Linked DNA regions of Homo sapiens. The protein of the gene in region 3 interacts with the protein of the main gene of each other region in a biochemical or structural test. Each region holds a gene or a part of one and is shown on either strand. Other genes may lie near its edges.

What was found.
Region 1: the proteins of SRF (region 3) and FHL1 form a complex in vitro, tested with the Homo sapiens proteins (one study listed by BioGRID).
Region 2: the proteins of SRF (region 3) and ELK4 are reported together in a solved structure, tested with the Homo sapiens proteins (one study listed by BioGRID).
Region 4: the proteins of SRF (region 3) and MYOCD form a complex in vitro, tested with the Homo sapiens proteins (one study listed by BioGRID).

Annotation. Positions count from the first base shown.
Region 1 is NC_000023.11:136,206,828-136,212,441, reverse strand, and holds the end of FHL1 (four and a half LIM domains protein 1), read right to left. Parts: intron 5,427-5,614; coding exon 5,252-5,426; intron 4,651-5,251; coding exon 4,481-4,650; intron 3,988-4,480; coding exon 3,801-3,987; intron 3,200-3,800; coding exon of another isoform or gene 3,000-3,199; intron 2,572-2,999; coding exon 2,417-2,571; 3' UTR 1,088-2,416; downstream 1-1,087.
Region 2 is NC_000001.11:205,628,851-205,636,914, forward strand, and holds the start of ELK4 (ETS domain-containing protein Elk-4), read right to left. Parts: upstream 3,162-8,064; 5' UTR 2,782-3,161; intron 1-2,781. UniProt on the Homo sapiens protein: Involved in both transcriptional activation and repression. Interaction with SIRT7 leads to recruitment and stabilization of SIRT7 at promoters, followed by deacetylation of histone H3 at 'Lys-18' (H3K18Ac) and subsequent transcription repression.
Region 3 is NC_000006.12:43,173,766-43,181,571, reverse strand, and holds the end of SRF (serum response factor), read right to left. Parts: intron 7,726-7,806; coding exon 7,459-7,725; intron 5,867-7,458; coding exon 5,605-5,866; intron 5,025-5,604; coding exon 4,905-5,024; intron 3,279-4,904; coding exon 3,087-3,278; intron 2,767-3,086; coding exon 2,690-2,766; intron 2,478-2,689; coding exon 2,382-2,477; 3' UTR 66-2,381; downstream 1-65. UniProt on the Homo sapiens protein: SRF is a transcription factor that binds to the serum response element (SRE), a short sequence of dyad symmetry located 300 bp to the 5' of the site of transcription initiation of some genes (such as FOS).
Region 4 is NC_000017.11:12,668,237-12,676,042, reverse strand, and holds part of MYOCD (myocardin), read right to left. Parts: intron 4,182-7,806; exon of another isoform or gene 3,852-4,181; intron 1-3,851. UniProt on the Homo sapiens protein: Smooth muscle cells (SM) and cardiac muscle cells-specific transcriptional factor which uses the canonical single or multiple CArG boxes DNA sequence. Acts as a cofactor of serum response factor (SRF) with the potential to modulate SRF-target genes.

The DNA.
Region 1 (5,614 bases), on a different chromosome or scaffold from region 3:
ACTCAGCCCACTCCCTTGGGAGCAGTGAGGGCAGCCACTCCCCATCCCCTGAGCCAGCCTCACTGTCCCTGGGGCCCCACATGACTGGACAGACTTCATTGGTTTCAAGGTTTTCATGGCTAATTTCTGTAAGGAAACACACACAAGGGGATGTGCCACATTCCTAAAAGTGCTCATGGTTTCTTGCTGACAGGTTCAGTTCCCTTCTCAGAAGGCAAACGTTAGCACCAAAGGGCTTCTGTCCTTTGCTTTTATCACCCTCAGCATGTGGCCCAGTTAAGACTAACACCCCCTCCTCCCACCCAGTTCTGCTTGTACTTTGACGAGGGGCCCTTATGGTCTGAAGCCTCTTCCACCAGGAGAGTGCAGCAGACACCTGTCGCATGGGGCCTCTTGTGCTGTGCCGTAAGGGCCACATGGGTGTGGGCAGGTTGGATGACCCAAGAACACGAGCCTCAGAGGTGAACAAAAGACACTGGTGTGTGGTGCTAGTCTAGAAGCAGCGGCAACTGGGGAGCCTCAATGCCAGGCCAACCCCCTGCCTCTGCCCACGGCATCCCTGCATGTTCCCCCTAACTGAAGTGCATGGGCCCAAATGGGCAGCTTCCTTAGTGAGCCACATCCACAAGAAGGAGCGAGGGTGTCATTCAGCTGGCAGGTGGAGGCAGCCGCAGTTGAGATGGTCACGTTCAACCTGGACCCCAGGCTCCAGAGGGCACAAGGGGAAAGGCACACCGAGGAAGCACCCAACAAACAGGGACCAAGATGGCTTCTCAGTGCCATGCTTCATCAGGGATTCCCTCCCTAATCCCCTGGCCAAATCAAACCAATTCATCGTTTTCTTTCTTTTTCAGGGATGTGAAAATCTGGGAAATACTATTTTAGGTCAGAGTGGTTTCTGTTTGTTTTTAATTATTTATTTATCAATCAAGTGTGGTTTTTACAGGTTTGTTTATAATTCCTATGTTCTGTGCGCCTGCACTAAAGTGAGTATATCCTGGAAGGAAAATAAGTCATTTAGGTTTCTGGATTAGGAGTATCACCTTATAGCGATTCCACCAGGCAGAATGAAAAGACAGGAGGCAGGTTATTCATATGCTGCTTTATTTCTGTAAGGATACACTGAAACGTTAGATGATAATAGCTAATGACAGAATGTAGAAATGAGGCATCAGCTTCTCTAACCACTCCTACAAGAATGTTAGTATGTATTGTCATTACATGTTTACTTTTGATATTGTCTCATTATACTATGTCATATAATAATGTAGAATACAGTAAGTAGGTGATCCTGCATTTCAGGTAAGCGGTAGGTGGAAATCCAGATTTCCTCTTGAGGAAAAGTCCTAGGAATCACAACAGAAGGGACTTTGCAGTCCTCATTAACACATGGACAAAGAGCAGACAACTACTACGTTACAAGGGATTCAACTAGTCACTGTTGTGAAATGTCATATCCATGTTGATGACAGCCCTGGCGCCTGCTCAACTCCCCCTCTAGAGTTTTGCGGTTACTTCCGTAGGATGAATTTCAGCACTGCAGGAACATCTGAGGGGGCTAAAATATTTTCATGCAAGTTTCCAAACCCATAAACTATTTTGCTATCAATTAAAACAAAAATATTAATTAAAAACAATAAAAAGGACAGCAGGGTTAGTTTTGTTAAGCTTCCAGAAGTATTCGTTGTGACGATGTTCCTCTGAAACAGGCTCGTTTTCTCAGGTCTTTCTACACTTCCCAAATCACCTGCATGTTCCATGCTTTAAAGTAGGAACGCTCAGAAAACATGCCACACGGGGAAACCAAACGTTAGTACGGGGAAAGGTCAGTTTAGAATTACAGCTAAGTTCAAATGTTAATTTTCTGGAAGTTCGTGTTAGTTATTTGAAAGCACAAAAGAACAGAAGGAAGGGCAGAGTTCTGATGAGGAAGTTAAACCATGCATGTCAGTAGGGTTCTTTTCCTGCTCACAGAAGAGGGTGAGCAGTGAGTTGGAGCAGCCGCTGCAACTCTTGCATGTCGTGTGTCTACACGGTGGGTCCCAGCTGAGGCATGAGAGGCATCTCAGTGGGGGTTTTATCTCCTATGCTTCTTGCTTACATCACTAAGTGGCTAAATGATTAGCACTTTTCTGCTCTATGAGAAACATGCAGAAGAGTCAATCTACCTAAGTTTTCATTTTTAAATTGCAGCCGGACAGAAATTCACTTTGCTGCAGGGTTGCTTTTTGCTAAATGCTAATATGATCACTGTGTGCCCTTATTTGAGTAATACTGTAAAATGGGAGAAAAGACGGAAGGAGAACTTTAAAGAAGGGAAGGACCACTCTTCCCCTATTGATGGTATAGGGCAGAAAGTAAGGACACAAAGAACGAGATTCAAATGCCATTTTACAGGACAGGAGCCCCTGTCAGTTTACAGCTTTTTGGCACAGTCGGGACAATACACTTGCTCCTGGTGGAAAACAAAGCGCTTGTTGGCCAGATTCACGGAGCATTTTTTGCAGTGGAAGCAGTAGTCGTGCCAGGATTGTCCTTCATAGGCCACCACACTGGAGCCTTTACCAAACCCTGGGGGGAAAAAAAAAGAAAAGAAAAGAAAACAAGAGAAACAGCTGAATGAATACAGGTGAGGAAACCACGATTCAGAGAGATAAAATGACGACCTGCCCCACTCACAGACCGACAAGCACGCAAGAGCCAGGTCTGCCTGGCTCCCAGACCCCCTCCTCCACTCCATCGTGCACAGTCCCCCACGCCGCCATTGTCCCCCATGCCGCCGCAACCCTGCTGTGGCTCTCAAGGACCTGAGAAGATGCTGAAGCCCGGCCAAGGGCTTCCCTGATGTAAAGACCCCACGTTCCCATGCCACCACGCTATTGCCCTGTGACGCGCACCGACCTCCCAGCATAACCAGTTTCTTTGATTTAGGTCAGGGCCATGACATCAAAGTGGCCACCAGGAGGCAAACTTGGGCTGTTCGTGGGGTGTGCACTTACCGGGCCTCGAGGAGCTGCTAAGCTTCGATTTTTTCTATAAAGAACCACCACCCACGAGGGACAAGTCCTCTCTCCACCCGGATGCCTGCCCCGGAGGTTGGCGCTGGGAAACAGGGTGAGAGGCAAGCGTTTCCCGTGGCACACTGGGGGCTTCCTAGCTTTAGAGACTGGGTGGCTCACTCTTGACACAGTCCTTTTCCCTGAGGATGGCAAAAGTCTTCTCAAATGTACATTTCAAGGCTCCCCGGGAAGATGGGAAAATTGGAGGCAAGGGAAAGGGCCCAGGGCACGTGGATCGCGGCCGCGAGATGAGGAATGAAGTGATTAGCTTTGCTGATCGCAAAAACAAATAAACAGCAAACCAAAAAAAAAAGAAACCCTGCCAACAGGCATCTCTGAACTAGCCTTCAGCTATGGGGTATTACAATCCCGGGTTATCACTCTTCGGCCTCCCTTACCCCTTCCCCACCCTCCCCCACCCCCTTCTTTCTACCCTCCTCCCACCCCTCCCCCCAGAATCCCCCTGCAAAGTGGCAGTGCCTGCCGGTGTTGGCTGGCAGGTCTCAGGCTTGTGAACTCTCAGCATTGTTAGTCAACAGTCAGGAAGTGTTCTGTATTGCAAAGGCTAACCTGGCCTGGGGACGAATCCAAACTCTTGGGGGGCCTTTGGGACCACAATAGCAGGGGGAGAAGGGCATTCTCTGGGGGCCTTTGTGGATGAAACCGACGACAGGAAAATGAGAGATGGTTACCATGCGCAAAACCTAGCCTGGCAGACTTAGCAAGGACTCTTTAGCCTACCAGTGATGGGGTTCTTGCATCCAGCACACTTCTTGGCCACAAAGTTCTTGTAGCAATCCACGCAGTAATACTGGTCCTCCACAGCGGTGAAACGCTGCCCAGCCAGCTTCTTAGAGCAGGTAACACACACAAAGCAATCGGCATGCCAGGGCTGATCCTGGTAAGTGATTCCTCCAGATGTGATGGCCTAGACCAGGGAGTGTAGCACCGGATTCAGATTCAACAACCATTTTGTTGAATGCCTACTGCGTGCCAGGCACTGTGCTGGGCGCTTTGGTATACAATATCTCATTTAATCTCCACAACAGCCATGGGAGGCAGGGGCTATTATTATCCCCACTTTACAGATGAAGACACCAAGGCTCGGAGAAGGTGAGCCCCTATGTGAGGTTACACAGCCCCTAAGTGGTGGAGGCAGGCTTCTAGAGCCAGGGCTGCCCAGCTCAGCATGCCATACGGGCCACCCGCACCACCAGGCTGAGGATGCGTACTGACAGCCTGACTTGGCTGTGGCACTGCTTCCTAATCCACGATCTCCTCATCTGTAAAACGGGAATAATAATTCCTACGTCACAGGGCTGTCGTGAGGATGGAATGGGATAGTGTGTGTGGAAGTGCTCTGCAAACTGTCAAACACTTCTAGAAACAACGGTCAATGCAGAACTCCCTTGAAAGCATACCTTGTTGCACTTCACGCAATGCTTGGCAAACTTGGTCTCATGGCAAGTCACGCAGTAGAAGTCCTCCCCTTTAGGGAAGAAGCTTCCAGTCCCGATGACTTGCTTGCAGTTACTACAGGTGAAGCAGTCTTTGTGCCAGACGGTCCCCTTGTACTCCACGTTTTGATCTCCTGCAGAGGGAAGCAATTGGATAGCCCCACTGACAGGCTCTGCAGGGGGCTGCATCCACTCAGCTCCCCTCCCCAGGCCCTCCAGAGGTGAGGGGATGCAGGCCCTGCAGTTACTGGCCTCACACCTCCAACTAACCTACCTGTGTTCTACTTGTGCTTGTGCCAACCCAGGATTTCTGTCATGGGTGGGGACCCCAGCATTATTATTTTAGGATCCAGTGCCTGAATCCCCCACTCCCCCACCTCTATACCCTGCGTGCACTTAGACATTAAATCAGGGACTGCCTGGCCCAGAATGACACCCTGAGGAAGAAGCATGCTTTCATCACTTACTACGCCCAAATGAGAAAGCGCTACATACTGTTCACTTCATTCTGTTGCCACAGGCTGTTCTCGCCAGTGTTCTTTAGTCTCCGAGTGTGTGCGTGTGTGCGAGCATATATGTGTACGCATATATACGTGTATGTATATGTGTACATATATATGCTAAGATCTCAAAGCAGCTCAGAGCAACGTTAGCCCCACCATGATAAGCAAGCCCACATCACGTCTGCCCTCAGGGCCTCCTCCCTGGGAACCCGGGGTGGGAAGGAGGCAGTACCTGCCACAATGGCCTTGAAGCACCCCTTGCACTTGGGGGAGTCCTCCCGAGTGGTGCACTTGTTGCACAGGATCTTGTTGTCCTTGGCCACAAAGGTCTCATTGGCCAAGGGGTGAAGGCACTTGGCACAGCGGAAGCAGGTGTCATGCCAGAAGCGGTTCTTATAGTGCACCTCCTGGAAACCAAGCAGACAGGGTGGGCCACCATGAGGGGTGCTGGGGGTGGTGGCAGGAGCCCTCCCATAAGGCTGATTTCCCTGGGACTGACCACTGAGATGACACAGTCCCTTACACCTGGGACTGCCCCACAGTGACTATTCTTATAGGAGGGACGCTGAGGTGAGGATAAAAATCTCACAATTCT
Region 2 (8,064 bases), on a different chromosome or scaffold from region 3:
CGATAGAAGGTTGAGGACAGTAAAAAAAAAAAAATGGCTTTGGCCGGGTGCAGTGGCTCACGCCTATAATCCCAACACTTTGGGAGGCCGAGGCAAGTAGATCACGAGGTCAGGAGATGGAGACCATCCTGGCTAACAAGGTGAAACCCCCGTGTCTATTAAAAATACAAACAATTAGCCAGGCGTGGTGGCGGGTGCCTGTAGTCCCAGCTACTCGGCAGGCTGAGGCAGAATGGCGTGAACCCGAGAGGCGGAGCTTGCAGTGAGCCGAGATCGTGCCACTGCACTCCAGCCTGGGCAACAGAGCAAGACTACGTCTCAAAAAAAAAAAAAAAAAAGAAAAGAAAAAAATGGCTTTGAGGTTTTAGACTGAAGTATTAGAAATGAATTTTGAGAAAAAGATATAAAGTGGACATTTTCACTGGGTACTTTAAAGGAATATTTTATTAATTCAATTATGATATCGTTATTCTTTTGATTGAAAAGCAGCCAACGTCTTCTTACATAGTTAAGTCAAAACTCTTCATTTTAGTTTCAAAAAGTGTGGTATTAACAATGATCTTCAATGATTTCATCAGATATAAAAGAGAGCTGGCCGGGCACAGTGGCATACGCCTACCATCCCAGCACTTTGGGAGACCAAATCGCTTGAGGTCAGGGGTTCTAGACCAGCCTGGCCAACATGGTGAAACCCCGTTTCTATTAAAAATACAAAAATTACCTGGGCGTGGTGGTGGGCACCTGTAATTCCAGCTACTAGGGAGGCTGAGGCAGAAGAATCATTTGAACCCAGGAGGCGGAGGTCACAGTGAGCTGAAATCACACCACTGCACTCCATCCTGGGCGACAGAGCAAGACCCTGTCTCAAAAAATAAATAAATAAAATAAAAGCTAAAGAAAAAAAATCCCCTAAGACAGTTATTAAAAATTATGTGGTTGCTTCATGCCTGTAATCCCAGCACTTTGGGAGGCCAAGGGGGGAGCTTGAGCTCAGGAGTTCACGACTGGCCTAGGCAACATGTTGAAACCCTGTCTTTACCAAAAATACAAAAAATTAGCCGGGTATGGTAGTGCGTGACTACTCGGGAGGCTGAGGTGGGAGAATGGCCGGGAGATGGAGGTTGCAGTGAGCAGACACCACATCACTGCACTCCAGCCTGGGCAACAGAGTGAGACCTTGTCTCTAACAAAAACAAAAACACAACAAAACAAAACCAAACAAAACCTTTTATTCTTGTTACCTATCAAAAAAAAAAAAGAGGCTAATTACTTGATTTTCCTTCTTACAGGAATCCCGAGTTTTCCACAATTGCAATTTTTAAAGTTTAAAGTTATAACAAAGGAAGAAAACACTTAACTGGTCCAAATGAAGGTATTTGATTTTTGAGGGGGTAAAGGCTGAAAACATAATTGATTCTATTTTAACACTTCAAAGATAGACCAATCCCTGTCCTAAATTGAAAGGGAGCATGTTGAAGTAATGTATTAAGGAAAGGAAGTCTCTATTAAATAAAACCTTTTCCACCCTAAACATGTTTATAATACACACAGTCCAGTTGCTGTGGTGACCCATAGCCCAACTATTTTTCAGAGACAGTAGCTAAGACCCAAAAAAACACAAAGTCTCCAAATTTTCTTCAGCCTGCTACTTAAAAAACCAAGTTATGAATGTATCAAGCCTAGTTTCGAATCAAAATACTCACCGTTGTCAAAAAGTAACCAAAAGTAACATGACGTTTTTAACTACACAGGCTCCTAAAAAATACTCTTTGTATAGGATCCTGCACAGTTCTTACAATATTCTTACAATAAAACTTAAAGACACTACCTCACTAGGAATGAACAGATTCCACTTACGCAGTTTTAATGTTTAAGTAAAATCAAAGAGAAGAGTGTTCCTGAAGGGAAAATATTGAATCATACTACATTTTAATGAAAACACCGCTGCCAAACCTAAATATTGAAGCACCAAGTTTTCCAAGCCAGGGGGTGTAGGGGGTGGGAAAAGACGACAGAGGATCTGATCTATCAACCAAAGAGATGGACAAACCATTCTGATGAGGCATAGAACTCCAGAATCTTTATTTAAATTCCCCAAATTTCAAATAGCAATAGCTGGAGAAAAAGTGAAGTGTGTACTTTTGACTACTTCAGTCAACAACATCCCTATTTCCTTCCAAGGCCAGTTACTATCCCGCCCCGAAAGATGTTTCCAATTGATCTTCCCAGGAATGAAGTTACCAGCCTCGATGCAGCTGTGCACAAGGCGGAAAGTAAAGAGGGGCGGGGGGCCGCTGGAGCGAAAGAGAAAAAGAAATGAAACTCGACACCGGATGACTAGCGAGCTAGGGGAGAGGAAGAAACGCGGACGGCCGCGTGTGCCCTACAGGAGATCAAAGTCTGGGGGAAGAGGTGCAACCTCACCGGGCCTTGGTAAGCACTGAATTACTGTACTTTCATTTTCCAACTTCCTGTCACTACAGAAAATGAGAATTGCTCCCCTCCTCCCCATCCACGCCGAAAAAATCGCCGCCACCTTTCGCCCACGAGACTTCGGGGGACCAAGAGGCGACGAGAGCTGAGCGGTGCGCTGCGGCGTCCACCTGTGCGCCGCGGTGCCCGGCGGGCCGGGGGCGGACCCAAGGGGAGCGCGCGCGCCCGGCCCCGGCCCCCGCCCCCACTTCCTGTTGTGCCGCGCGCCCCTCGGCCCCCGCCCCCGCTCCCGGCCGGTGGGGCTGTGGCCGCGAGATCCCGAGGGGGCGCGCGGGGCTGACCGCTCACCGACGCCGCGCGCGGGGCTCCCCCTCGGTCTCCGCCTCGAACACGATGCGCCTCTCCGCCCTCAGCCTCCTCCTCACGCTGGAAACTCGAGGACGGCGCGGCAGCCGCTGCGACCCCCGCGGCGGAGCCGTAGAAGGCGGCGGCGGCCAAGCCGAGCCCGCCGGGTGCCCGCAGCCGCCCGCATCTCCCGCCGCCGCGGCTCCTGGCGCCCCGCCCTCCCCGCCCCCGCACGCGGCAGCGGCGGCGCGGGTCTTGGGGCCGCTACACGCCGGGCGCGCGCGTTCGGGGCGTTCCTTGCAGCGGCGGGGCCTGCCAGGCCCTCCGCGGCCGCCGCCACTCTCAAACCCCCCGACTGCTCCTGGGTCCCTCCCAGACGCCGTAGTCGCTACACGTCACTTCCGGGGGAGGGGCTGCGACCCTAAGGGGTGTCGTGAGCCGCGTCTGCCAGCAAACCCGGGTTTGGTGTGGCCGGGGGATGTAGCTCGGGCGCCTCCTGGAGTCGTCTCGCCGCTCTCCGTCGCGTTCGGTGCGGTTGCTTCCAGGTCCCTGAGGCGCCCGTCCGGAACCCGCCAGGACCCAAGCTGCCGCCTGGGCCGGGACCTCGGACTCCTCAAAGGCGCGCCACTTTCTCCTCGGTTGGAGGGAAGAGGTGGCGCTCGCAGAGCAACCTGCGGGGGACCACTTCTGTTGGTGCTAAGCTTTGGGGAGAGTCTCCTCCCTCCTGTGTCCCTCGTCCTCCTTACCACTCGCTGTTAGAAGTTGGGGCCGTCACAGCTTTCTCATCGAAGTGCCAGATCCCAGGACACTACAAACGCTTGATAAATACTAAATTAGCACTGTGGCTTTCTAGCCTGGGGACTGACAAATGGAAGCGCTGGAGTCGTGGGAAAAGCTTGCCCTGACGATGGAGGCAGCGACCAGAAATCCATTCGTGGCTCTACCCCTCACTAACTCACCAATTTTAAGCAACCTTAACCTCTCTAAAACAGTCATCATTTATAAGGTGGAGAGAACCCAATCTTAGAGTTGTTGTAATGATTAAAGAAAATAAGGTGCATGAAACACCTAGCAAGAGTTTCTAGCTTAGAGGTTCTCATTAAGTAAAATTCTTAAGGAATCAGGTCACACTTGATACAAGAGGCTACTTGAGCAGTTTAGCACCAGAAGGAATGTAAAGTCATAAATTAGGACAGCTGAACAAAACCTCCAAGAAATAAATTAGGTGTTTGTTTAACAAGAAACCAAAGAGAGGTCAGTGTCTGAGTTACTGGTTATTCGAGGCCATTTACTAGCTGTGTGACCTGTAGTGAGTTGCTTAACCTTTCTGGACCTCAGTTTCCTCATGTAAAATGACGATAATGAGCAGCATTGCTGAGAGGATTAAATGAAGTATAGAGCATAATGTACTTAGTGCATTACCTAGCACATAGTAGATACCCAGTAAATCGTGGTGTCATTTATTTTTGCCCCCACAATTGAATGTATAGTTAATTGAACTCACTGAGTGAAATGTGATTCTGTCATCCTTTTGTAGGCTTTTGGAAGAGAATCATCACTTCCTTGATTTCCAGCCTCCTCTTCCATAATACAGAGTAATTATAATCCACAAAGGTAGCTATTCCTGTAAAAACAACTCTACCAAAAGATGTTACCTTTCCAAAATTAGTTTTACCAAAGCATGCAAACATATTAAGACATGTTTTATAAGGAACATGCAGTATCTGAAAAGCACTAGCAGTCTTGGCCCCTAACATAAAATTTTCCTTGCAACAAGTTCCATCTTGGAAACCAAGAAAAAAAAAAGTATTAAGGTAGGCTGTTTAGGATACACCTATTGGAAACATTTGTTTATAAAAAGATTTCATTTTAAAGCCCCCTACCAAGAACAGTTAAGGGTTGTGGAGATCTGCACACTACGCTGCTCTGTTCAAACTGGCAGTAAACATCTGATTCGGCCTTAGGGCCAGTAGTTGTGTCATATCCCTTTTAGACTGAGCTTACGGCATTGTCAATTGCAGTGTATTTTTGGAAAACAGCCTGCTTTGGGAGTTCTTAAATTAGTCATAGCAAATCTGTCTGCTTTTAAATTGACTTTTTTTTAAGGCGGTACATATTGACAGAAGAGAAAGGAAGAAAAGTGGATTTCTAATTAGAGAACTTGAGGGGAAAAGTTAATTAATGTGCCTGGTTTTCCCACTCAAGATTCTATAAATACACAATCTCTCTCCATGGTTCCTCACACAACAGATGGTTCTGTTTGTGCAAACTCCATGGTAGTTACGTTGGTCAACCAAAAAGACTGCTTTTTCGTTATCTTGTTTGGTCACTTTCCCACCAGATAGATGGATTCCTGATCTTAGCCTTAGTTACTCAGAGCCATCCCAAAGAAAATTTGTAGATTTTATTACAATGTTTATTTATTTTTTTGAGACAGAGTTTCGCTCTTCTTGCCCAGGCTGGAGTGCAATGGCGCAATCTCGGCTCACCGCAACCTCCGCCTCCCGGGTTCAAGCGAGCCTCCTTCCTCAGCCTCCCAAGTAGGTGGGATTACAGGCATGCGCCACCATGCCCGGCTAAATTTTTTTGTATTTTTAGTAGAAATGGAGTTTCTCCGTGTTGGTCAGGCTGGTCTCGAACTCCTGACCTCAGGTGATCCGCCCGCCTCGGCCTCCCAAAGTGCTGGGATTACAGGCGTGACCCATCACGCCTGGCTTAAAATGTTTAAATATGTATTTTCTACCTGGCCTGCCCTAGATTTTGTTTTTTGTTTTTTGTTTTTTGTTTTTTTTTTTGAGACAGAATCTCACACAGTCACCCATGCTAGAGTTACAGTGGCACAATCTCGGCTCACTGCAACCTCCGCTTCCCGGGTTCAAGCGATTCTTCTGCCTCAGCCTCCTGAGTAGCTGGGACTATAAGTGTGCACCACCACGCCCAGCTAATTTTGGTATTTTTAGTAGAGACGGGGTTTCACCGTGTTGGCCAGGCTGGTCTCAAACTCCTAACCTCGTGATCCGCCTGCCTTGGCCTCCCAAAGTGTTGGGATTACAGATGTGAGCCACCGGGCCTGGCCTAGATTTTTTTTCTTAATCACTGCAGTTAACTCAGCTCTGCAACCCCTTGCCCCTAATTTAATTACATTTCCTATCCCAATAACACCTAGTTATGATCATTACTTCTCAAGGCAACTTCCTCTTCCCTCTCTTTATTTCACTGCTTCATCATTACTCCCAGTCACTATCCCTTTTTCCTAAAGAAGTGTTTCACGGATTTTTGACTGACTAAGCAAGCATGGAGCCATCCAGTTGCCTGTTACGTCTTTCAAGCAATATCCTGTAGCACGTGACATTAAGAAGAGATATCTTTTAAGTCAAAGACAGCACCCACAACCCCAGGTGGGGACAAGTGTGGAGCAAATTGCAACATGACTGAGAAGAAAGAATAAAAATCTGGGATATCTGGGTTCTAGCCTTTGGGTCTCCCTAAACTCAAAACTTGAACCTCCTGAGAAAATCCTTGCGACTTACCCTTTCTGGGTTTCACTTTCAACATCTTTAGAAATAAAAGAGACATACCTTTCACTTCATGTCTGTAATGGATAGACTAAAAGAAAAAGGCAGTAGGCTGGTTGTGGTGGCTCACACCTGTAATCCCAGCACTTTGGGGGGCTGAGGCAGGTAGATCACCTGAGGTCAGGAGTTCAAGACCAGCCTGGCCAACATGGTGAAACCCCATCTCTGTTAAAATACCAAAAAAATTAGCCAGGTGTGGTGGCAGGCACCTGTAATCCCAGCTACTCAGGAGGCTGAGGCAGGAGAATGGCTTGAACCCGGGAGGTGAGGGTTTCAGTGAGCTGATACCGTGCCACTGCACTCCAGCCTGGGTGACAGGAGCGAAACTGCGTCTCAAAAAAAAAAAAAAAAAAAAAGCGGTTGATCAAATGATGCTTTGAACTCTTGGTAAATAGCCCTATTGCTGTTATATTTGTGTGGACTGAGATCTTAGATAGAGGTAAAGTTATCTTTGAAAAGAAAACTCTGGCTAGCTGTATATTGAATCTGGCAGCACTGGCAACCCCTACTACCTGTTAAGGTCCTAAACTTTACCAAATATAACCAGTAAACGTTTCATCCCCAATAATAAGGCTTTTAATCAGAGGGTATTAAGGGTCCGGAGAAAACCCAATCTGAAGGTCATTGAACAAGGTACTTGTGGCCTCTAGACTGTGAAGTAAACTCATGGCAACATCTTTCAGGACTAGCTGTAATCTCCACACAATACATTGTTTTTTCAGAGAGGACATGACGAGACATGAGTTATTGCAATTACCGCCTGAGGCATAGCAACTGTCTAATATGTTTGATGACCTGTCACAAACACAGGTCAGAAAATAGCTTCATATAATTTTCATTCTTGATCTCTACACCCAGTCTACTTATTTTCTTTTAATATTTTTAACCTCAAGTAATTTTATTGGTCTTTGATAAATGTATTATTTCTAGACTTATAAAAATTGATATGGAATATGTAATAGAGAAAGAAGAGAGAATATATCAATTTTTTTTTGAGACAAAATCTCACTCTGTCACCCAGGCTGGAGTGCAGTGATGGGATCTCGACTTACTGCAACCTCTGCCTGCCGGGTTCAAGCGATTCTCCTGCCTCAGGCACCTGAGTAGCTGGGATTACAGGCGTGTGCCACCATGCCTTGCTAATCTTTGTGTATTTAGTAGAGACGGGGTTTCGCCATGTTGGCCAGGCTGGTCTCAAACTCCTGACCTCAGGTGATCTGCCCACCTTGACCTCCCAAAGTGTTGGGATTACAGGCGTGAGCCACCTTTGGAAAAGGTGTTCCTTAATTGATAAAAGCTCATGAAATCTGCCTTTTGTATAATTGTTTAAGATTCTGGTGTTTGGACCAGCTCCTTGCAGAATACATATTGCTCTGAATTTTAAGCCAAAATAATTTTTCCTCTCTGGTGTATTTTATAATCACTGTCTGGAAAAAAAACTTCTTCAATTAAAGTTAATTAAGGAAGCACCAATATATGATACTATGCTGTTATTACAGAAGAAACTCAAAGAGCATTTGCTCTTCTAGGAATTCTGAGTCTTGAATTGGCAACACTGACACCCTCAGCGACCATCATTGCTGTCCACGACTTCCAGCATTTTCAGAATTCTTTTGCTATCCCGTTGACATGAACAAAGAATTCAGCTAAGGATTCAGAAATGATGGGAGAGGCAGTCAGGCTGACAAACGAAGATATAAGTGCAGCTCTG
Region 3 (7,806 bases):
AGTTTGCCTCGCGTTCATACCCCCATCCCTCCCTAAGTAGAAAAACAGAACCAAAGACCCCACAGTCTGTGCACAAAAATGATACATTTATTGAAAGAGTATTTTTTTTTAATACAAAAGAAAGCTCTGTACATAGGACTGTGACCATGTCCACTATTCCTGGGTCAGCATCCCAGGGGAAGTAGAAACCACTGACATACACACTCACATTCAAGCACACACACTCACTCAGGCGCACACACCCACACACACATACCCCAGAGCCACCGAGGAAGGGAAACACCAAGGGTCGCTGCACATAAAAATATCACCTCAACTCATCCCTGACACACGCATGTCCTCCCAAGGCCACGCTCACACAACACACATTATAAGCACTTTGCCTGATTCACTCACTGGGTCTGTCTTTTGTGGGAAGGAGAGGAAGAATTCATCAAAGGTCTCCTCCCCATGGGTGGGGGAGTGGGGAGTGAGTGAGTGATGGTGGAGTGAAACAAGAGCAGAGAAAAGGGGCTGGGCAGTTACAGACCTGAGTCCCAAGCTCCCCTGCTCTCTGGCCCCTGATTTGCCATGCCCCAGCCTTGAAAGCCACCCATAAGCCCCAGCTATCTCCAGGAGAAAGCCCAGAAAGGTGACTTCCATCTTGGCACCCCAAACTGGGGCAAGACAGCAATGAGGGTTAGAGGTTAGGGGGTTCTCAAACATGTCGGCAAATCATCCCCTTGATAACTAGGCTGTGCATAAAATCTTCCCCCATCCCTTCACCTAATCACAGAAGCCAGCTTGTTCCTACTGAAGGCAGTCTTAGGGGTTAAGAAAATTTCACCCCACTGCTGCCCTGTTTCTGAAAAAGCTCCCCTTCTGGATATAGGTGGTGAAGGTAGGCTCTGACACAGGGTAAAAGACCCTCCCCCCTATGCTGGCCCACCCTCAAGGTCTACCCCAAAGGGGGAGGAGGGGGGTGGGGCATGGCCCCTGTACAAATTACATAAATACTGAGGTTACACTTAGAAAAATAAAGTCATTTTCTTCAAGGCTTTTTGTCTTAATTTAAAAAAGTTACAGTAGCTGCTCACTCCCTGGGAGAACTGCCCATTTCTGGCTCCCCTTTGGCTGCACTCAGCCCAAGAAGCTGCTCCCACTTCTTCTGACCCCCATTCCTGCCTCTCACCCCCTCCCAGACCCCACCCTGCTCACTGCAACTTGGGCCCCAGGCAGCTGCATGCCTGGGACAGCGCAAGGCTGCAATGCCCATGCGTGTGGCACAAATGAAGTCAGTTGCCTCTGCCTGACGCCCTCCCACCCCAACCCCGACATTTGGTCTCCCTCTTCCCTCTCCCTAGCAACAGCCCTAAAGGGCAAAAAGAGGCCCAGAGCTGTGGGTCACCCTCCCCACCCCGTTGGGGAATGGCCTGAGGGCCCCTCCCCCGGCTTTCTCCTGGAAACAACCCAGGACTGGGCAAACCCAGAATCTCCCCCACACACTGGTGGACCCCGAGCTCATGGGGTGGCTCTGTCCCCAGGGGCCCAGCCAGTTCTGGGGAGCCTGAGGGCTCCCCAGGGAAGGGGAGTTTGGGCAGGGAGGGGGACGAGAAAAACGCCATAAAAAAAAGTTAAATATTTTAAAAATATATATTTATAGATTTGTTTTCACTTCGTCTCCTCAAATAAAAAGTTCAAAATCAACTTTAAGTAAAGCAGCTGGGAGGAGAGGGGGGAAGACAAGGGGGAGAAGGGAACGCTGGTGGTTCCCTCCAACCCAGGAGCCCCTGGAGGTCCAAGGGGAGCGGCAAGGCAGGGCAGGCGGCCCCAGGAACCTGCCCAGTGCACAGGCCCAGCTACTCAGGAGCTGAAGGGGGAGAGGACAGCAGTGTGAGGAAGAAGCCCCCATCTCCCCAGCTGGCCCCCTGAGGGGCAGAGCCAGGGCTCTTTTGACCCAGCCTGTGACAGACACAGGGCTGACCTGGGGTCAGCAAGGAGGCTGGCAAGAGGGCCCCAACTGCTTCCTCAGAGGAGGACACGGTGCCCAGCCCCACAGAAGGCCTGTGTGTGGGGAGGTGGGGCACGGTCCCATTGGGTAAGCTAATACTCATGGCAAACATCGAGCCAAGCTGGCGAGGGGGTCCCAGGAAGGAGGACAGCCCCTCCAGCAACAGAAATGGGAGGTGGGGCGGGAAGAAGGGGAGGCTGAGGGAGGACGGGTGGAGGCAGGCAGGCCCATTTCTTTGGCTGGAGTGAGAGGGCTCAGTCCTGTGGCTGCCCGTTCCTCCTCCCCGCCTCCCTCCTGCGGCCCGTCAACGTGTGTGTAAAGAAAACGTGAAAAGGCAACAATAAATAAGTGGTGCCATCCCTTGGGCCATCTGTCCAGGGCGGCGGGCGGATCATTCACTCTTGGTGCTGTGGGCGGTGTCCAGGTTCACCACCTGTAGCTCGGTGAGGTTGCTGCTGCTCCCGGCCTGCTGCCCTATCACAGCCATCTGGAGGGAAGGGGATGTATGAGGAGGGGCAGGGACTGGCCAGCCAGTTCAGGCTCCCCTGGCTTCCCTGCCTGCCAACCACAGGCCTGAGCAGAAAAGCAGATGGGCTTCCAGGCTAGGGATTTTGGCTTTGATGAACTGGTAACAGGATCCCCTAAGGTCAAGACAAAGAAGTGGCTATCTGGGATGGGGTGAAAGATATCCCTACCTACCTGGTGGAGCTGAACTGCTGAAACAGGGATCTGCACTGTCCCAGATGATGCTGTCAGGAACACCTGGGGGACGCCACCTACATTGGAAAACCACAGGAGATACTCAAATTGTTTGTTGAAACTTCCAGATATTGGAGGAGTGGTGTCAAATGCACAAGTGACTGGGGCAGTCTCAGATGTAAGAGCCCAAGGGAAAGGGTGCCAGTGTGTCTGAGGGTGCATGCGGGTGTGAGTGTCCAAGTGGGGTGTCCAAATGTGTGTGTGAGCATCCAAGTCTGTGTTGTATTTGGGTAGAAATATTTGTAGGCATCAGTGCATATGTGTGTGTATGTGTGTGTGTGTGTGTGTATAAAGAAGGAAACGGTCCTCCTTTCCTTAGCCCTGCTCCTCTACTCACCTGGCTCCTGGACCTGGCTGTGTGACACCTGCATGGTGGATGGTGCCTGGGAGAAGGCATTCAGCACGGTGAGGCTGCCATCACCCAGGCCCGAGGTGGGGGCATACATCACCGCATGCGGGCTAGGGTACATCATGTGGCCACCCACAGTTGTGGGCACGGATGACGTCATGATGGTGGCGGGCAGCGTCACTGGCAAACACAGACATGTGTCAGCTCGGCACTGGTCCCCACTGATAACTCCCATTCCGTCCCTAGGAATTCCAGGCCCCCAGAGCCCTCTTGCCATTTCCCAGGTCAGAAGCTAGACACGACTATTCCTCAGCTCCATCATCAACTAAGAAAAGCCTATTTTTTCTTGAACACAACAGCATCAATCTTTAATTGTATCCTATCACATTGTACTATTTATTCAATTGTCTATCTACTGAATTCTCTAAGTCCTAAATCTTGGGAAAAACAAAGATTATGACTGACCTACTCTCAGAAAACTCAGATACTCCCCTTTTAGGAGCTCTAACATCTTATTTTTTATTTGTTCTCATTCTCCCTCCTTTTTTTTTTTTTTTTTGAGATGGAGTCTCACTCTGTCACCCAGGCTGGGGTGCAGTGGCGCGATCTTGGCTCACTGCAAGCTCCGCCTCCTGGGCTCATGCCATTCTCCTGCCTCAGCCTCCCGAGTAGCTGGGACTACAGATGCCTGCCATCAAGCCCGGCTAATTTTTTGAATTTTTAGTAGAGATGGAGTTTCACCGTGTTAGCCAGGATGATCTCAATCTCCTGACCTCGTGATCTGCCCCCCTCGGCCTCCCAAAGCGCTGGGATTACAGACGTGAGCCACCGCACCCGGCCTCTCTCTCCTTCTTAATGCACAGCTAACAAATTCATCTTTCAAACAAGCACTTCTCAAATGTTAACGTGCATTATATGGGAATCTTGTTAAAACACAGACTCTGGGCCGGGTGCGGTGGCTCAGGCCTGTAATCCCAGCACTTTGAGAGGCCGAGGTGGGCGGATCACGAGGTCAGGAGATCGAGACCATCCTGGCTAACAAGGTGAAACCCCGTCTCTACTAAAAATACAAAAAAATTAGCCAGGTGTGGTGGCGGGCACCTGTAGTCCCAGCTACTCGGGAGGCTGAGGCAGGAGAATAGCGTGAACCCGGGAGGCAGAGCTTGCAGTGAGCCGAGATGGTGCCACTGCACTCCAGCCTGGGCGACAGAGAGCGAGACTCCGTCTCAAAAAAAAAAAAAAAAACAGACTCCGATTCACTAGGTTTGGGGTGAGACTCAAGATTCTGTATTTCCAACAAGCTCCCAGGTAATGCTGGTGTTCCCAGTCCATAGGCCACACTTTGAGTAAAAAGGTTATAAATAATAAGAACTTAAAATTAACCTTACTTTGAGAGTATCTCATCATTTCTGAAATGTCTAGAGATACCTGAGGGTAACTGTGGCTACTCAAAACCTGTAAGACCCTCGCACAAAGAGAAAATTGCTCTCTAAGTCCTTCCTGATAATTAAGCAAATGTGTCTTTGAGCAAGTAACTTCTTATTTCTAGGCCTCAGGCTCCTCATCTGAATGAGGAGGTAGGTCAATGGTCCCCAATTTTCTTCTGGAATCCGCAGCCCACTGCAGGGCGGGATTCAAAACCCAGTCATCCTCACCTGACTTCCCCATAATTATTAGGCCCAAAGCCTCAATCTCCACTTTAAGAAATCCCCTGACTTTAGTTACAGGAGGGTTACTGTTGGGCACCTACTGCTAGGCCTCGTGGGGGAAGGCAGGGAGGGAGGGTGACAGGGCTGCGAGCTATACCTGTCCCGCTGGAGGAGGTCTGCGTGAGGTCTGTGCTGCTGTCACGGGAGGGAGACGCTTGCTGTGGGGCCTGGTGCACTTGAATGGCCTGCACTGGGACCTGCTGGGCCACTGCCCCACCTGCAAGACACAGAGTCTTATTTGTGCTCTGTCCCACCCAATTGCCACCTCCACCAAGTACCCATGGACACCCCAGTCCCAGGGTCTGGCACACTGGTCTCCAACTCCCATCACTATCTTTCCTGGAAGCCAAAGAGGCCCTTCAGGCCCAAGTATCCACTCTGGGGGCTTCCACGCTCTACTCTTGCCCATCCCTCCTCCTCCTGCCCTGGGCCTTGTCTCTCTTTTCTTCAGTTGACCCAAGAGCTGGCAATAACCCATCAAAGACATGATCTGCCTTCCAGTCAAGGCAGGAAGTGGTGAAACATCTACTGCCCTGTGGCAATGAGGGCACGGGGCTGGGGTAGCTAGACAGGGCCAGAATATATGGTTGAAACTTACTGACAAGGACAGCAGGGGTCTCAGTGGGCAGAGGTATGCCTGCCAACGGGATATAAGAGGCTTCGCTCAGGCTCTGGCCCCTATTCACCTTCCTTCTGAGCAGGGAAAGAGGTTCTCTTGGTGCCAGCCCTAAACACACTCTTAGCATGCTTGATTTGCCCCAGGAAGGACGAATCTCTCCCTGCCCCTCGTGACTCACCAGGCATGAGGGTGAAGCTGGTAGGCAGCTGCATAAGGCCCCCAGAGGAGACAGGGCCGCTGCCTGTACTCTTCAGCACAGTCCCATTGGCACTGCTGACAGCACTGGGGCTGACACTAGCAGACACTGGTGCCAGGTAGTTGGTGATGGGAAAGGAGGGGCCGCTGCTGACTTGCATGGTGGTAGAGGTGCTAGGTGCTGTTTGGATGGTGGAGGTTGTACCCGGCAGGTTGGTGACTGTGAACGCCGGCTTCAGTGTGTCCTATACCCAGAGTAAAGATGAAGCAATGAGCCCCTACCAGATCCTGCCTTTGCAGAAGCTTTGTGTGGACTGAGAACCCAGACTGAAACCAGTGAGCTTGGGTTCAAATCCCAACGCCACCATTTACCTGATGCCTGACTCTTAGGTAAGTTATTGATCTACTGAGCTACAGTTTTCTATCGGTAAAAGGAGGATAATACCTACCCCCTAGGTTGCTGTAAGGATTAAGTAGGTTAGCATATGTAAATCACTTAGAAAACACTACCTGGCACATAAAAAAACCAAAATAAATATTTGCTGCTCTTATGATAATTATTATCATTGTCATTATTATAATCCCCTGAGTTCTCTGCTCCAGCGGACTGTGGTAATCCCATTGGCTGGGGAGTCAGGACACCAAGGTCTGTTCCTAGCTCTGGTAATGACCATCTAAGTGACCCTGAAATAACCAGTCCCCTTTTCTGAACCTCGGTTTTCCTCTTCTATAAGCATGAGGGGGCTGGGCTACTACGTTTTCTTTCAAAGAGTTCTTCCAGCTCTAATTTGTCAGGCTTCTGAGATAGGAACTGAGTTTCTCAGGGAACTTAAGAGTTTGAGAGAGATCTTGAGAATCTGGCAATGACACACTATATGTCAAACACCCAAGATGTAAACTACCAAAAGAATGTACTCATCCAACAAAATTTCCTGGGAATAAATGAGCCCTACTGTTATAAAAGTTTAAAAATTATTACAGATGATATGCCACTAAGAGAGGAGGTAGCCTACAGCACTGACTCTCCCCTAAGGAAGACTTCGTTCTTAGAAGGGGAAGAAGGAAACTGAGAACCAAGCCACCAAGCCCAGACCCGAAATGAGTCAACCAGAGGCTCAAAGGCTGCGGGGTGGGTCAGCACGAGACGTTTGCAAAGCAGCTGGGCCCAAGACCCTTGATTGGCAGAGGCGTTGCTAAGGCAAACAGTGCCGCTTCCTCCCATTGGCCAGTCAGTTAAGTGCCACCCGGAAGGTGGAGCTCCCCAGACAGCAAGGGAGGAAGCCCCACCCCCTCTCCTTACCGGGAAAAGGAAGGGGGAGGAGTAACAGCGCAGGCATCCCTAGCAGCAGGCAAATGCGCTCCCTAACTGCCCAGGCCCCCAACACCCTGAAAGGGCAGCGGCTGGCTTGTAAGGTAGTCCCCGGCCCAGTCAACCAGCCCGCCTGCCAAGAGTGCTGGATTCCCAGGACCCCGGGACCGGAGTGCTCCCTTTCTACTCCCTGGCGACCCAGCCCGGAGGGCCGGGCTAAACTACACCCCCGCCCCTAGCGGGGAGACAGCTGGCGGGAGGAATGCAAAGGCCCTGCCAGGCAGGCGGGCTGCGGGCGGGAGGCCGGCGTGGAGCCCAAGCCGGCCTTATATGGGCACGGAGGCCGCCCGCTTATCTAGGGGGGCGGTCTTCTATCAGGAAAGTGAGGATGGACACCTGTCCCCTAGGACGAGGGTCGTTAATCCGGCTCCACTCCACATCGGTGGGCACCTATCCACCTGTCCTGGGCCAGAAAGGGAGAGGGACCCCACTCCCTTCCCTCCTCTCACATAGGCAACCCAAACACACCTTGGTCTCCCCACTGCTGTCAGACTCCGACACCTGGTAGGTGAGATCTGTCTCTTCAAAGCCAGTGGCACTCATTCTCTGGTCTGTTGTGGGGTCTGAACGGGGTGGAGAGTCTGGCGAGTTGAGGCAGGTCTGAATCAGTGCCTTGCCGGTCTCACTGGTGATCATGGGCTGCAGTTTTCGGGTGGCAAAGGTATACACATGGCCTGTCTCACTGGCCACCAGCAACAGCACCTGTGTCCCTGTCAGCGTGGACAGCTCATAGGCCTGAGGGGTGAGGAGGGAGATGGGCAGGTCAGCAAACTTTTTATCTCTACCTTCCTTGAGAAGTTGGAAAAAGAATTATAC
Region 4 (7,806 bases), on a different chromosome or scaffold from region 3:
GTATTTAAAAATTATGTAGATACGAATACAGTTTTATTTTAAAAGATGCAAATGGTAAAGGAAAGATAAGGTCTTGCTCTCTGTACCCATGGATACCATAATGAACAGTTCTACTTATATCTTTGAAACTTCTTTTTTCTGTGTACTTATATATAAATATGATTGATTGATTGATTGATTGATTGAGACGGAGTCTTGCTCTGTCACCCAGGCTGGAGTGCAGTGGCGTGATCTCGTCTCACTGCAACCTCCGCCTCCTGGGTTCAAGCGATTCTCCTGCCTCAGCCTTCCAGGTAGCTGGGACTACAGGCTTGCGCCACCAGTGCCAGGCTAATTTTTTGTATTTTTAGTAGGGACGGGTTTTCACCCTGTTAGCCAGGATGGTCTCGATCCCCTGACCTCGTGATCCACCCATCTCGGCCTCCCAAATTGCTGGGATTACAGGTGTGAGCCACCGTGCCTGGCCAATACTTTTTAAAAAACATAAATGAAAATATGTTGCCGGATTGTTTTATAACCTGAATTTTAAAAAATTAATTCTACGTTTTGGAGATCTTTTCACATCAGTTCATATAGAATTTTATCATTTCTTTTTGCTTTGCATTGTGTTTTATTGTATTCTATACTGTGAATATATTGTAATTTAATGAATCGTTCCCTTACAGATGATGTTTATGCTGTTTCCATCTTTTTTAGGTTAGGCATTATAAACTGTGATAAAATTGTATCTGTTAAGACTTTACAGTATGGATAGCTCACCAACACGATAGGTGTATCTATGTCTTCATGCCTATTCAATACTCGATATTATCAACATTTTAAAATTTTGCTAATTTGAAGTTTTTAAAAAATAGTATCTAGATCTTTCACTTTGCATTTTCTTGAACGCTAGTGAGTTGAGTATATTTCATATGCTGACTGATTATTTTCTCCCTTGAATTGTCTTTCCCTTAGGTTGTTTGCTTTAAATCTTATTGTTCATATAAGTCCTTTTAATAATTTTGTCTCACGTATATTTTCAAGTATTTTTTTCAATCTACAGTTTGATTTTAAATTTATTTTGATGATTTTTTAATGTGGAGTTTTAAAGTGTTTAAGTGACCAAATATGTCCATTTTTATTTCTAACCTGGCCATGGCCATAAGCTTGGGAAGGCTTGTCCTACACTGAGATGAAAAGATTATTCTCCTCTGTTTTCTTCAAATATTTTATAGGTTTCCTTAGCTCTTTAATCCATACGGAATTTATTTTAAGGTATATCATAAAATATCTCAATTTACTTATTTCCAAAGAGATAGTCAATTTTCTCAACAAACCCATTACATATTTTATTGTAGATAAACAGTGGACAGCCACTGTTATCAGAGGTTAAATCTATGCGTATATACATAAGTGTATATATGTGTATGCATGCACATATACACAATTCTCATCCACTGATAATAATTGTCTGTTTTACTTCTGGTACTAACTCCTAGATATTTCTTATATAACTATGTTTAATGTCTTAGAGCAAATCTCTTCTTCTTGTTGCCTTTCAAAAATTTCTTAATTTTTTTTTCTCAAATAAACTGAAGTTTAAAAAGTCAAGTTTTATTAAAACCCCTGGGACTTTGTAGGAATGGCATGTGTAATTTATAGGTTAAGTACTAGAAACAACTAGTTTGATAAATCACTATTTAGGAAATCAAGGACGATAGCAGTAATTGGATATATGCCTGGAGTTGTAGCCCAGAAAGAGGCACATTAAATCTACTGGGTCAGGTATGTGTGTATGGTTATGCGGTGGGGCAGGGAAAGAAGGAAAGGAGCTGCAGGTTATAATAGAGATAATCATCATGGGACAGTGGAACAAATACGTTCATACCTGGCCTCCAAGTTGTCTAACATCTTTGAGCCTCAGCTTCTTCATCTCTAAGATAGGAATAATCACATTTTTGTAAGGATTAAATGAGATGATAAAGGTGCCCACAGATAATAGGTTCAGTAACTCCTAGTCCTCTTCTCTTCCCTTTTGATGAGGCATGAGTCATATTTGGTAACACGTGGTCCCTAAATAGCAGACCACATGGAAGTTTCCAAAGGCATTAGGCAACTGTTACTCATTTTCCTTTTCAATCTCTACTGAAAAGGTATGAAAGGCTCATCAGATACCAGCCACCATTGGGTAAGTACCCAAGGTTACTCTGAGTTAGTTGTACAGTAGGGACAAGCATTCATCGCCAAATAGAAATAGGCCTAAAGTTAAGTTTGTTACATTGTAAGTGCTCCAAAAACACTAGCCATCATTACAGCTCATAAATATTCAAATCCATTATTCCCACACTTAGGCATTTACTCTAAATAATGAGTAGCCTACAAAACAATCCAAAGGGAGGAAAATATTTTCTTTCTTTACATGAAGGATTTCACAGTAGTGTTATGCATACAGATTTTCATAGTAGTGTTATTTATAATATAAAGATTATAACTGGCTTAATTTTCCAATACAAGTGGAAAAGGTTTAGTAAATTACTATATACTCACTTGGGGGAATATTATACAGTCTTTAAAGCAAAAACTATGTTGCTATGTAGCCGCTTGAAAAATATTTATGCTATTATACTAACGATAAAAAGGCTGAGTATAAACTTATGTATATACTCTGATTATCACGTTGTAAAAATCTTTATGCAACTGGACCAGGACAGAAAGAGAACACAAATGACAAAAAATATAATGTATTGAGGAGAACTATTGAACTATTGTTCAATTAATGTTGAACAGCATTTTCTGGATTTAACTTTTTTGAAATCATTTTTTAGAAGCTCCAGACAGGGCAGTAAGTCTCAAATAAATAACAGAAAGTTCCTTGTGGAACTTTACCTAGGACTGAAAAACCAGCCCAACCAGTCAGCAGAAAACAAGATTGGCTTCCTAAGGAGAGTGTTTCCGGAAATAGAAAAGGCAGAATAGTTTATGGGGTATTTTCTAGTCATTTCACATCATCTGTGAAATGAGGATATTGCCTGGAGTTATTTGACCATATTTTATGAGAAACAACTAATTTGATGCTTTCGTACCACTTAAGAGGCCAAGGGGAAGGAGATACAAGTTGAGAAGGGAAAACTTACTCAATGCAGTAGTTCAAACTGAGGTGTCAGAAGGGATTGCTGATAAAGACATACTAAGTATTTGAGGGTCTGTGTATCCATTAATCATTGCTGCACAAACCAAGTGAGAGCTAGGAGAACCCAATACATACATCTCACAATATTACAGTGGCTTAATTCACTTTGAATTCAATTTCTTCTCTAGTGATCTAAAGTAGCTGAATACAGCAAACATCCATGAGTCAGAGGGATTGTACTCATAAGAGAAGTACCCCAATAGTGAAAAGAAAGAACTTATCTTCCCTCACCAGCAGGAGAAAAGAAAGACATTATTCTCCCTTCATTTTGCTATGCTCTGGAAAAACAAAAGTCACAAAACAGTTTTATTTATTCTAAATTTCTGGGGATAAATGATACATTTTATTTTAACAAAAATTGGACACCTCTTTCTGTTTTATCTAAGAATAATGATCCAAATCTCGTTACGTAAAGCTTGACAGCTTGACTTACTAGCTATTCTGAAACATATAAGCATTATCTGCCTAATAAAATAGAAATTCAAAGTACTAACGTCGTAAGGCTGCAAAACTATTATTGGGCTAATGGTCATGGTTGTTGTTATTAATCCTATTTGTGTTCATCGAAAACTTTTAACTACTCCACGCATAAGCAAGAACTCTTATGCAACTCACATGCCACCAGATCCAGTTATCCATTTCCACACAGTGAATAAAGGTTCACTAATTTCCTTCTTTTCAGAAAGAAACCCTTAATAATTCTACAAAGATCTTTCCCTCATAGAAGTATGAGGATGTGAAGACCATGAGTCATTTTACCAATATGGAAACAGAGGCCCAGAGAGCCCTGGGAATATAAACATATTCCCAAGACCACGGAGTCCCAGATGGGCTCCCACTGTGACTTGGCCCACAGGACAGAAGGAATGGAACCAGGAAAGCAGAGACCTGTGAAATGCACCTGCTGGCTCCTCCCCCTTGATCTGGACAGAGATGTGGGGTACCTGTTCACCATTCATTAGATGCTCGGGAAGCCTTGCTAATTAGATGAAAATAAAGGAAATGAAAAGCAGCCTGTTCTAGCATCTCCTATTCAGGTTTGGCTTTTTTGAAGCATGTAAAATTCTAACCCTGGGTGGAGTATTTTGCTTCTGCCCTGCACTTCTGTTATTCTTCAATTTAATCCAATTAGAGTAGAGCACATTCAATCTGGTTCAAGCCAACTTGACACAATCTTGCTAACTGTTTCTGTCACATGCTGTAGCAGATAAAAGACAAATGCCACTCTTCCTGGTCTTAAAGAATTTATATGTTTTTAAAAAAGTATCCTGGGTACACAGAATTGAATTAATCACAATCCTTGGTTCATGACACTGTCACACTATCGTCATTGAGCCATAGATGACCTTTGTTTAATTAATTTGCTTAATAACACATGGACACAACTACTGCCTAACCTAAGAACAATAGGGATAACCTGCTTCTTACCTTTCGGCTACACCCCTACCTCCTTATTTAGCCTCTCCCACTGTGCTATGACTTTGACTTTTGTATTTATAGTCACTCCTCTCCTTTTTGTTCTAGTTTTAGTACACACAAACGCACATCTAACAATAAACCTATATTGCTTGTTTTTGATGTTTTTGAATAGACTTTAGAGGAAGAATAAAACCTATTTATTCAACATATATTTAATGGGTTCCTTCTCTGTGCCAAGCATAGATGATATGAAATGACTGGAAAATACCCTATAAACTATGTTAGGTGCTAGAGAATAAAGACAGTAAAAACCAAACACGAATAAACAAGTAATAATTTCTGCCGTTATGGACAAATAATAAGCAAATAAACAAGTAAAAGGTTTAGTCTGTCCAATAGTGATAAGAGCTATGAATAAAACTAGGGCAGGGAAGGTGGGGGTTGGGGTTCTTGCTATAGTGATTAAGATGGTGAGGGAAGGGCATGGGAGCTGTGAGTGAATCGAATACAGCTGGACTTGAGGAGACAGGAATGGTCTCAAGCAGGTGGCTTGAGCCAGACCCCAAATGTTCCTTTAACTTTTACATTCCATGTAGAAATTAAAATATGTTCATTTTTTAAGGTCCATTAAATTGTATTCTCATATGTAATGCTTTGATCAAGCATTTACAAAAATATTTAGGGCCATTCCCTTGGAAAAGTATTGAATCTTAGGGCTAAAAGCAACTTGAAATAGAAACCAGTCAAAACCCTCTATTTTGTAGAAAGTAAAAATGAGATCTAAAAAGGTGAATTAAATTATATGTACATACATAAATATTACATATCATGGGAAAGGTACTCTTGTAGGTTAAATTATTTGTTCTAAACTAGAAAACTAATTGCCAATGAAGGTAGATAGTCTGGGCTTCTCTCGAGCTCATGGTGAAAATGTCTTCAGTACTGTCCATTATGATAAAAATCTTGGGGACCGACTTCTTAGGCTAAGCTCAATTCCTGAGAGAGAAAATTCAGTGCCAGAGATGTTGAGGATTTAGCTTAAAGTAGGAATCAGTCGTCCTTTTAGGTTGTCTGAAGGATGGAGAATAGAGAAACGACAGAGAGAGATGACTGCAGGGTCTTGCTGAGATGTCCCTTGCCCTCTCTGAAAGGACAAGCAACCAATTACAGGCACCAGGGGCCTGATCCTGCATCTATTGGAGTAGAAGAACACAGTGGGGTGGGTCCCACTACCTGAATTCAGCCACAGCCTCTTGAGTACCTGCTTTGCATGTTCTTTGCCTTCTTTTAACTACAGCTCCAACCTCTGGAGCCTCTGCTGCTTGAGCACCGGCCTGCCTGCTGAGCTTATCTTCCTCCTTGCCAGACGACCAGAGACCAGAGGTGAAGCTCCCATGTTCTTCCTCACCCATAAGCTGGCTGTACTCTGGGGGACCTAGGGTTCATTCTCATGGTACCCCCACCCCATCTGGAGTTTTCTGCTTTCATGCCTAAAGTACAAGTTTTGCATTTTGGGGAGTCCTTGGGGACCCAGAGAATCTCAAGAGCTTGATAGGATATTGGATGGGGCAGCAGAAAGTGTTGATCAAAAACCACTCGGATTGGTCAAGAGATCGAGACCATCCTGGCCAACATGGTGAAACCCTGTCTCTACTAAAAATACAAAAAATTAGCCGGGCGTGGTAGCGGGCACCTGTAGTCCCAGCTACTCAGGAGGCTGAGGCAGGAGAATGGCGTGAACCCCAGAGGCGGAGCTTGCAGTGAGCCGAGATCGTGACACTGCACTCCAGCCTGGGCAACAGAGCGAGACTCCGTCTCAGAAAAAAAAAACAACAAAAAACACTCAGATTGTAGGTAGGGTTGCCAAAAAGAATAACAGGGCCTAGTGAAATTTGGATTTCAGAGAAAAGTATGTCCCAAGTACTGCTATATAGTGAAAAAGTAATCACTATTGCTTGGAAATTCACATTGAACTGAGCATTCTGTATTTTTATTTGCTAAACTGAACAAGGTTATATTTGTGGGGGTGGGGTCAAGTTCATGGCAATTGCCAGACTTTGCCTCTGTTTGCGCGGTTTAAGATGGGGAAGTGGGAAAGAGAGAGAGAGAAGCAAAAGAAACACAATGATTCTTTAGAAGCAACATCCATTCATGGATCTCTCTCTCCACTTTTGATCCTTTATGTCTGAGGGCTGTGTGTGCCTGTGTGTGGCACACATACGTACCTCCCTGTGTGTTTTGTAGGACACAAGGATTGATATGGAGGAGAACTGTTGATAGTGACACTGATTAGATATTGAATAAACAACATGAGAAGATTAAAAACTGTAAAAATGTGATTAGTTTAAAATCAGCACAAATTACTACATTCATGTAAAACTGCCTCTCCTTCACACACAATTGCCACACAGCACAATCACAGTTACACTTGTTCCCAGTCAATCTTTATGTGTTTTCAGAGAATGATAAAATGTTACCAAAGGGGTCTAAGACATTGCCTAATCCAACCTCAACATTTACCGATTAAATAACTGAGACAGAGAAACTGACCAACCGCCGGTCCCACTGCACATCAATATTAATAATAGAAAAATGTTTTGTAAGAGCCTTCTAAGGCCTGGGCATTTTCGAAGTTCTCTACTTCACATTTAATTCTCACAATGACCCTATAGTCATCCTCTTTATTCAGGTGAGGCAAGTTGAGGCACAGAGAATTATGTAATTTACCTAACGCTCAGGGTCATGTAGCTAGTAAGCAGAGACCACTATGAAAAACCCAGCTAGTCTGGCCCCCGAGACCCACGCACTCAACCAGGACACCCTTTGGCTTCTCAAATGAGTTTATATCACTAAACATGTTCATACATGTAAACTTTCAGAGCTTACTGCTGCTGTAGCACAATTTTGTCCTTAATCACGAGGTCACTCAAATACAGCTTATAGAAAGTTGGTCGGCCATGGTTGACATCGATGATGATTTCAGAGTAAAAGCAGTTATCTGCTCACCTATAAATAAACCCCGTCACAGTGGGTCTGTTGCTGTAATCAGAGAATGGTTCTGTTGCATTTATTTTTTGAAATATGTTTAATGGAATACATAATACCACGATCTACTATCAAAGCAAATATTCGCAGTGAGATAGAAACAGTTTTATGAGTTTACTGTTTGAGTTGCTTTTGAAAGAGAAGGAGGAGAAGAAGATGATGAAAGAGAAGGG